Homo sapiens: one gene and its partner. The protein of the gene in region 1 interacts with the protein of each later gene in a biochemical or structural test. Each region holds a gene or a part of one and is shown on either strand. Other genes may lie near its edges.

Region 1 (5,514 bases):
TTTGTCCATCGTAAATGTTGAATAATTGTTTAAGGACTGTTATTTACATTTTAAAAACTTGTTTGACCGAATTGTTGATCAGTTGATTCTCTTACTGGGAATCCTACACAAAATGTATCAAGATTAAAAGTAAACATTTATGAGGAAACATCCATATCTTTTCTGAATAAGTCAAATGCATGAAAATTTAATTTGTCATTGAAATAAACATTTGAAATTAAAACACAAAACTATAGTTTGCTCTATAGTAACATTTAAAGCCTCTTTCATTAATGGGTCATTTTAATAAATAAGAATTCATGAATTAATTTTTTAAGAAAAAATAAGCCTTTGAAATTTTTTATTTTACAGAAACTACCTGTATAATCCTTACTATCTGTTAAACTTTTCAAAGGAGAATTTTCAGTGTTTTCCTTATTCTTTAGTTTTCTTTTCTATATGTGTATGTGATGGGAAATAGGGATGACAGTGATAAATTGAAGTCTCCAGATATCCTCAAAATTAATTTTGATCATAATTTATAATCTATGAAACTATACTTTTTATAAAGTTATCTGATTCATTTAGTTTCTATCTTTTTACCCTGTTTCTACCCTTGGTTCAGGAAAATAAAATGTTCTCCATATATATTTAATATATATATTTATATTTGCTGAGATTTGCAAATATATAGTCCCATAAATAATCCAAAATTTTTAACTTGAAAGATGGTTTGTAACAGAATTATTGTTGAATTGATTAGCTTCTAATAGATGAGATGTCATGTACATGTTTACCACTTTGATTTTTTTAAGTCAATCATGTTAATAATAACATTATTCGTGTGTTTTTTTAGGCATGTTTACATATCACAAGGATTCACACTGCCATTGGTTTAGCAGCTTTAAATGTGATAACTATTCTGAATTCCGATTGGTTGGAATTGTATCCTTTAAACTTTCCACTAGGAGGTGCTAATAGATTAGAGATTTTTAAAGATTTTATCTGTATTTTAGAAAACTGTTTTCTTTAGCCATTTTATCCAAATTAAATGTTATTGTCAAATGTACTATTAGATTTTCAGTAATCTTCATTATGTGTAATATATGTCAGTAGACTTAATTGAAAGAAATGAGAGTTTGATTTTTTTCTGAAAACCTTATCTCAAAATAAAAATGGTTCTTTCCTATTTCACATATAATTGAAGTTATCACTAATTTAAGGCATTTTTTAAAAAAAATCAAAGTATTTCCCATTTATAATGAAGTATTTTTTTTCTGTTCTTTCACTTTGTGCTCATTTCCCTCAGTTTACTGAATTGAAATTGGGGGAATTAAATCTAGCTCTTTAATATGCCTCCAAATCCTGAAACATAAAGGAAGCATCCATAAAAATTGAATGGAATGGGAATATTTAAAGCATATAGTATTATTTTATAGTATTTTTAAAAATTTTATAAGTCCATCTGCAATCCTATGATTCCTATCAGGTATATTGTAGAGGGCATTTCTGCATTGGGTAGGAGATTGGACAAGATGCCTTCTACATTAGCTTTTTAGATTCCAAGAAATGTAATTGTTTGTGGAAGAAAGGAGGGAAGAGTAAATAAATAAGCACTGGAGATAAGAAAGTATAAAAGGGGTGGGGGGGAATTCTTAATCTGTTCTCAGAGTCAAATGACCATATGGCAGTAAGTACTAAGGAGTTCTGAGAAGGAAAATATACAATGTATTTTTCCCAGAGAGGATAGAGATTTAAAAAATGGAACAATTACATTTGATTAATATATGGCTGGTGAGAGTGGTGGGACATTATAAGCTGAGAGAATGGTGAGAATAAAAAAGGCTAAATTGTGCTGGGCTTGGTAGAGAGCAGCAGCAAGCGCACTGAAAGTTATGGAAAATACCATCAGAAAATGAATGAAGAGCCATCTTTGAATGTCTGTCTTTGTTACATCTGTTGGAATAAATTATGAGACATATATATGGAAACTGAGAGACCAGATTAATAAAAGAAAGTGTAGTAGGGAACAAACTACACATTAAGATAGTAAACTCAACTTGAAATTTTGTATATATTGTTGTGTCTAAAGGTCCAAAGTGCTAAATTCCACAAAATGAATAACGCTTAACAATTCTGAGACTCCTGTTTATATTCTAGTATCTGCAGTAATCATTTGTTGAATGTTTCATCTTCATTGAAGGGCCTAATCATTGATGCTTGTCACTATACTATGAGCTATTTATATGTTCATACATATATGTTTGTCATGCTTTATATTCATATATCACAATTTAGATTTGGATGATATTTTGACTCTAATATTTACACTAAAATATTATAGCTTAGTTACATTTTTAAGTGATACTATACATAAAATCATGAAATTGCTCATTGTTTTTTTTGCAATAGATATTAGTTTCTATTTAGTCATTACCCAAAAGAGCATATTAAGCATGTTTAGATATTCTATATTTCAAGTTAAACAATTAAATCTAAAAATTATAATTGCTACTCTCATTATTATGTGTGTTTATCACACACACAGATATAAAACCTATAGAAAGCTAAATTGATGCTGTAAAAAGCATAATACTATATAGGAGAAATGTGAGATGAGAGTGGATTGTGGTCAGGTAAGGAGTTGGGAACTGAAATTTGAGAAAGAACAGGTATGAACATTGAGAAAATATAGTTGGTTTCATATATATCTCCAGTTTTAAAATTTCAGGACCAAAGATGTGTTGTTCTAGTAGTTCTGACAGTATTGTGTTTCTAATACAATTATTTTGAAGTATAAGGCCTTATTATCAGACTTCATTACACCTTAGCAAATTGAAATTTTGGTGGTCTTCCAATTTTTAAAAGTTATTTTCAGTAATTTACCCAGCTCATATGTTTAGATTTCCTTATGATCCTATAAAATGAATTACTTCCTTAATAACTTTATATAATAATTGACTGTTGAAATACTATGAAATTTGATCTAAAACCTCTCTTTCCATAAATGGATAAGTTACATTCCACCATATGACTAATAAATAATCCTGAGCAAAATTTGTAACATCTGTAGCTTTTTAACTTTGACACTGAAACTCCAAGTAACATAAGTCTTTCAAGTTTTACTGTTGGAAATTACCTATCCTATTAGCTTATCAATAGCATGTTTATATCCATATGTTTATTCAGTTTAGCTCTGTTCTTCACACATAGTCTGTTTTTAATTTTAAAATAAATAAAATGGCTATCTCCAAAATCAGTATTCTACAGTGAGATCTACTGAATAAACCATTGCTGCTGCTTATAAAATTGCCAGCATCTTTGTTTAAATTTAGAAAATGTTTTCTGTAAAATAATTACAGGCAAGTCTTAAGTTGCTGCCTGTTGTGATCTTAGATAAACTTTTCTAGGGAAATCATTGAATACTATCAACTAAACCACTCCTTTTTACATGACTTTTTGTAATCAAGGAATTATATTATGTAAAATAAAGGGGAAATAAATGAAAGAGGGGAAAGGAAATATGTGATACTAATTAGAAAGTCAGTGTTAAATCTGAAAGAAGTATGCAAAAAATAGACTGATGCATAATTCAGAACTCATTTGTTGTCATGGATTTTATGTTAATGCTTAACATTTAGTATGCATAGCTTATGGGACTAGCTGTTTATAACAGCATCACCTTGGATATTCGTTTCCCTCCCTGCTGTTACAAGAAATTATTGAGCCCTCCCATCATTCCTAGTGATCAAAATATACCAGTAGGCATCTGCAATGTTACCGTGGACGACTTATGTCAAATTATGCCTGTAAGTATAAAGTTATTAATATCTTGTCCTTTAATGCGAAATCATCTTTTTTCTACCTGCACAGTCTCTCCTCCTAATGCTATTCTTACTTTTAAATATGGTTTCCTTCTACCTTTATAACTCATCTCCTTTTTTCATCTAGCTTTTTCTTTCCTTAGAGACACATGTCACCCACTTTGCAGTGCTCCTAAGCTTTTACAAGATAGAGAGGCAGTAATTCGAATCCAGGCTCTGTCACTTACTAGCTCTGTGAATTTGGACAAGTTATTTAACCCTTCAATTTAGTTTCTTTATGTGAACAATGGGATAGTTTTTATTAATAATTTTTAAATGATGACAATTATATCAAATCTGTGCCAGCCTAGATTTGTATGAAAATTTGTGGTTTTAAAGGAATAGAACATTTATTATGTAAAATATAGAAAATCATTCTAATCATGCTATTATTTACCTTTTTCTAATAATTTAAAATAAAACTTTAATTTTTTCATAAAAATTAAATTGAAAATTTTGAAATATTGGATCAATTTTTCTATTTTTAAATCTTTATTTATGGATAATTTCAATTATAATATAATGTAAGAAAATCTTTCTTTTTTTTTTTTGAGACAGAATCTCACTCTGTCACCCAGGCTGGAGTGCAGTGGCTCCACCTTGGCTCACTGCAACCTCCGCCTCCTGGGTTCAAGTGATTCTCGTGCCTCAGCCTCCTGAGTATCTGGGATTTTAGGCATGTGCCACCGTGCCCGGCAAATTTTTTTTTTTTTTTTTTTTTTTTTTTTTAGCAGAGACGGGGTTTTGCCATGTTGGCCAGGCTGGTCTCGAACTCATGGCCTCAAGTGATCCGCCTGCCTCAGCCTCCCAAAGTGCTGGGATTACAGGCATGAGCCACTGAGCCCAGCCAGAAAATGTTTCTTTTTTTTTTTTTTTTTCTGCCCAAGACAGTCTTGCTCTGTTGTCCAGGCTAGAATGCAGTGGAACAATCTCAGCTCACTGCAACCTCCACCTCCCAGGTCCGAGCAATTCTCCTGCCTCAGCCTCCCGAATAGCTGGGATTACAGGTGTGAGCCACCACACCTGGCTATTTTTTTTTTTTTTTTTTTTTTTTTTGGATTTTTAGTAGAGACAGGGTTTCACCATGTTGGCCAGGCTGGTCTTGAACTCCTGACCTTGTGATCTGCCCACCTCGGCCTCCCAGAGTGCTGGGATTACAGGCATGAGCCACCGTGCCCGGCTAACCAGAAAATGTTTCTTTCAGTATACTTAACTTTTTCTTGGGAGGGGAGGGCACTGTGCATGTATGAACTGTATATTCATGAATGCACATGAATGAACTGTGTGTTTTATGTTTAAAATATGAATCCAAAAACATTAGCAGATTTTCATAGGAATATAAATTGAAAGTGAGAAATACTACAAATTCATAAACAGTAATGTGGCAGATAGCAGTGAATTATGACAGACACTACATTAGAGGTATGCTTAGCTTGCTGCTTAAGAGTAGACCCCAGAGTTATGCCCCTGTAGTTTGAACTGGATAGTTTCCCCATCTATGACCTATAATGATTTTTTTCTTAGCCTCTGGATGGTAGAAATCATTAACCATTTTGTGCCCTGGAAAATACATGTCAAATATGATCTTTATATACATATGCATGAGCTATAGAAAAGCCACTTCATTATCCTAGCTAATGCTATTCTATTGAAAAAATCATTAACAGATTTC
Region 2 (4,507 bases), on another chromosome or scaffold:
GCCTTTACCCGGAAGGTATATCTTATGTTTTAATTTTTGCATGCCTCTTTCACCAAAAATCTCTGGGACAGGCACATAGTTTGTGTGACTTATGCACACCTGAGCCACTCCTTTGACCATCCACAGATCCCCAGACTAGGAAAGAGGCCCAGAGAAGTTCAGATGAGTTTGGCCAAGTTCCCTGGGTGGTGAGAGGCCTGGCCTGCCTCATGTAGTAACAGAACTGCTTCTTTTTTTTCCTTCCTCTTTTTGGAAGAAAAAAGAGGCAGGATCTCACTGTCTTGTCCAGGCTGGAAGGCAGTGGCGTGATCATGGCTCACTACAGCCTTAACAACTAACAACTTAAAACTATAGCCTCAAGCAGTCCTCCTACCTCAGCCTCCTGAGTGGCTGGGACTACAGGTGTGCACCAGCAGCACGCACAGCTAATTTAAAAAAATTGTTAGCAACAAAGTGAGATCCTGTCTTTACAAAAGGACTTGTTTTTGTTTTGTTTTGTTTTTTTGAGAGAACACCTTGCTCTATCGCCTAGGCAGGAGTGCAGTGGTGCAGTCTTGGCTCACTGCAGCGGTGTGATCTTGGCTCACTGCAGCCGGTGCCTCCTGGGTTCAACCAGTTCTCATGCCTCAGCCTCCTGAGTAGATGTGATTACAGGTGCGTGCCACCACGCCCAGCTAATTTTTTGTATTTTTAGTAGAGACAGAGTTTCACCGTGTTAGCCAGGATGGTCTCGATCTCCTGATCTCGTGATCCACCTGCCTCGGCCTTTTTTTAGTATAGATAGGGTTTCTTTTTTTTCTTTTTCTTTTTCTTTTTGAGATGGATTTTCACTTTTGTTGCCCAGGCTGGAGTGCAATGGCACAATCTCAGCTCACCACAACCTCTGTCTCCCAGGTTCAAGTGATTCTCCTGCCTCAGCCTCCCAAGTAGCTGGGATTACAGGCATGTGCCACCACGCCTGGCTAATTTTTGTATTTTTAGTAGAAACGGGGTTTCACCATGTTGGCCAGGCTTGTCTCAAACTCCTGGCCTCAAGTGATCTGCACATTTCAGCCTCCCAAAGTGTTGGGATTACAGGCATGAGCCACTGCGCCCAGTCTGTTTTTGGCTTTTTTGAGACAGGTTCTCATTCTGTCACCCAGGCTAGAGTGTAGAGGTGTGATCATGGCTCACTGCAGCCTCAGCCTCCTGGGCTCTTGTGATCCTCCTGCCTTAGCCTCCCAAAGTGTTGGGATTACGGGCATGAGCCACTGCACCCAGCCAAATCTGCTTCTCTTGAGCTTTGCCCATGTGTCAGGCATGTAGGACTTTATAGTCCTTATCTCTCATCATAAACTCTGGGTACAGGCTGTTGCTACTCCCATTTTACAGATGTACAGGAACATTCTCAGACTCTTTAAGCTAGGAAGAGGCAAAGTCTGAGGCTAGACCTGCTAACTTGGGGCCAGATGGCCTCATTCATGCTTCACCCCAGCTCCTCGGACAGGACCTGGCCCACAGTGGGGAACAGGGGAGGTTGGTCAGTCCTGGACAATCAGTGAAGACCTTTAGCAGATTTCACCAACCAAAAGTCATGCAGGAAAGTGTGCGCGCGCGCGTGTGTGTGGTATGTGTGTGTGTGTGTGGTGTGTGTGTGTGTGTCTTACTCTGTTGCCCAGGCTGGAGTGCAGTGGCACAATCTTGGCTCACTGCAACCTCTGCCTCCCAGGTTCAAGTGATTCTCCTGGCTCAGCCTCCCAGTGTGCCACCACACCCAGTGAGGGAAAGCTATTTTTACATGGCTCAAGCAGTGTAAATGACAATGATGTTTACTTACTTCCCCCCACCACCACCACCATTTAATTCTCCTCTTGAAAACTAAAAGCTGGCTGGGTATGGTGCATCACTCCTATAATCCCAGCACTCCAGCACTTTGGGAGGATCACTTGAACTCAGGAGTTTGAGGCCAGCCTGGACAACATAGTGAGACGCCATCACTATAAGAAATAAAAAAATAGCTGAGTGTGGTGGCATATGCCTGTAGTCCCAGCTACTTGGGAGGCTGAGGTGGGAGGATTGCTAGAGCCCGGGAAGTCAAGGCTGCAGTGAACCGTGATTGCACCTCTGCACTCCAGCCTGGGTGACTCCCCACAGATGAATATGCTGACAGTGGTTTCAGCTGCTCGGTGGTGATTCAGACCTGGACGCGTGGCTTCAGTAGCCCTGGGGCCACACTGCCTGCCCGCAGCCTCCTGTCTTGCTCTATGCTATTCCTTCCAAGTCCCTGCCATCTAGTCTTTAGTCCTCTCTGCCTGGGAGGCCTCTTCCACTCCTCAGCCTTATGTCATCTTATCCATCCTTTAAGGCCCTTGCTCCATGCCTCCCCTCCCAGGGCAGGGCTTGGATGTAGGAGAATGTGGAGAACTGGCGCACGCCAGCCTTGCTCCCCAGCAGAGGAGCTCTGTTTACTGGAGTGCGTACTTAGGCCACGGCTTGAAGATATGGGGCTGGGGTGTAGGGCTGTCAAGATTGTTCCTGGGGCCAGGTGCAGTAGTTCACTCCTGTAATCCCAACACTTTGGGAGGCCGAGGCCGGCAGTTCACCTGAGGTCAGGAGTTCAAGACCAGGCTGGCCAACATGGTGAAACCCCATCTCTACTAAAAATACAAAAAAAAAAAAATTAGTCGGGCAGGGTAGCGGGTACCTGTAATCCCAGCTACTTAGGAGGCTGAGGTGGGAGAATTGCATGAACCAGGGAGGCAGAGGTTGCAGTGAGCTGAGATCGCGCCACTGCACTCCAGCCTGGGCGACAGAGCGAGACTCCGTCTTAAAAAAAAAAAAAAAAAAAAAAAGATTGTTCTTGGGCTCTCTGTGAAGCTTGGATTTCTTTGGGTTGGGTGTGCCATGGCAAGTGCCATGGCAGACCTGGGTGAGGGAAAAGGGAGTACAATGGGAAGGGCTTCCCCAGCTCTGGAGATAGGTAGGGTTGGGGAGAGGCCAAAAGACTCTTTGCTGAGTCATCTCTCAGGCTCCTGGGGCCATCAGAGTGTCCAGGCCCCAAAGGTGGTTTTCGGGTGGTTCTAGGGGCAAGGGGCTAGGGCATGGTGCTGGCCCTGCCTGGTGATCACCTGTTGAGTGACCAGCTCAGGTCCCCAGGGTCCAGCCATTGAGCTGACTACTGTTTCTACCCTGGGAAGATTGAGCTGGCCAGGACTTGGCATCAAGGCAGTTATTTGGACTTCTAGTACTCACAGTGTATTCTGGTTGGGTTGTAACTTACCTCTGGTACAACTCTACTTGTATCTTCAGAAAAGATCAAGAGATATTTGCAAAAACATAATATGATAAAGGACTGTCTAAAGGACAAAGAACACTTAAAACTCTATAATAAGAAAACAACAATAAATAACACCGTGCATCTCTTAGAATGACCAAAATCCAGAACACTGCCAAATGCTGCTGAGGACGTAGAGCAACAGGAACTCTCGCTCTTTCCTGGTGGGAATGCAAAATGGTGCAGCCACCTTGGAAGACAAGTTAGGCGGTTTCTTTCATTTATTTATTCATAAAATCTTTTTAACAAAGAAATTGAGTCTCTCTCTTGCCCAAAATGGAGTGCAGAAGCGTGATCACAGCTCATTGCATTCTCAAACTCCTGGGCCTAAGAAGTCCACCCTTCTTAGCCTCTGAAGTAGCTGAGACTACAGGCACATGCCACCATGCCAGGCCAATATATTTATTTTGTTATTATTTTTTGAGATGGAATCTTGCTCTGTCACCCAGGCTGGAGTGTAGTGGCGCAACCTCAGTTCACTGCAATCTCTGCCTCCCGGGTTTAAGCAATTCTCCTACCTCAGCCTCCCAAGTAGCTGGACTACAGGCGTGCACCACTACGCTCTGCTAATTTTTTTGTATTTTTAGTAGAGACAGGGTTTTACCACGTTGGCCAGGCTGGTCTTGAACTCCTGACCTCAAGTGATCTACCCAGCTTAGCCTCCCAAAGTGCTGGGATTACAGGTGTGAGCCACTGAGCCTGGCCCAGGCTAATATATTTAATTTTTTTTTTTTTTTTTTTTTGTAGAGATGGGGTCTTGTTATGTTTCACAAACTGGTCTTGAACTCCCGGCCTCAAGTGATCCTCCCTCCCTGGCCTCCCACAGTGCTCAGATTACAGACATGAGTCACTGCTCCTGGCCCAGTTTGGCAGTTTTGTTTTGTTTTTTTTTTGAGACTCAGTCTCGCTCTTTCGTCCAGGCCAGACTGCAGTGGCGCAATCTCCACTCACTGCAAGCTCCGCTTCCCAGGTTCACACCATTCTCCTGCCTCAGCCTCCTGAGTAGCTGGGACTACAGGCGCCCACCACCACGTCCAGCTAATTTTTTTTTGTATTTTTAGTAGAGACGGGGTTTCACTGTGTTAGCCAGGATGGTCTCGATCTCCTGACCTCGTGATCCACCTGCCTTGGCCTCCCAAAGTGCTGGGATTACAGGCGTGAGCCACCGCGCCCGGCCGGCAGTTTCTTACAAAA

Evidence for each region. Proteins that work in one complex are often made in the same cells at the same time.
Region 2: the proteins of HECTD2 (region 1) and UBE2L3 form a complex in vitro, tested with the Homo sapiens proteins (one large-scale study listed by BioGRID).

What each region holds. Positions count from the first base shown.
Region 1 is NC_000010.11:91,492,585-91,498,098, forward strand, and holds part of HECTD2 (probable E3 ubiquitin-protein ligase HECTD2), read left to right. Parts: intron 1-835; coding exon 836-924; intron 925-3,620; coding exon of another isoform or gene 3,621-3,629; coding exon 3,630-3,788; intron 3,789-5,514.
Region 2 is NC_000022.11:21,604,707-21,609,213, forward strand, and holds part of UBE2L3 (ubiquitin-conjugating enzyme E2 L3), read left to right. Parts: intron 1-4,507. UniProt on the Homo sapiens protein: Ubiquitin-conjugating enzyme E2 that specifically acts with HECT-type and RBR family E3 ubiquitin-protein ligases.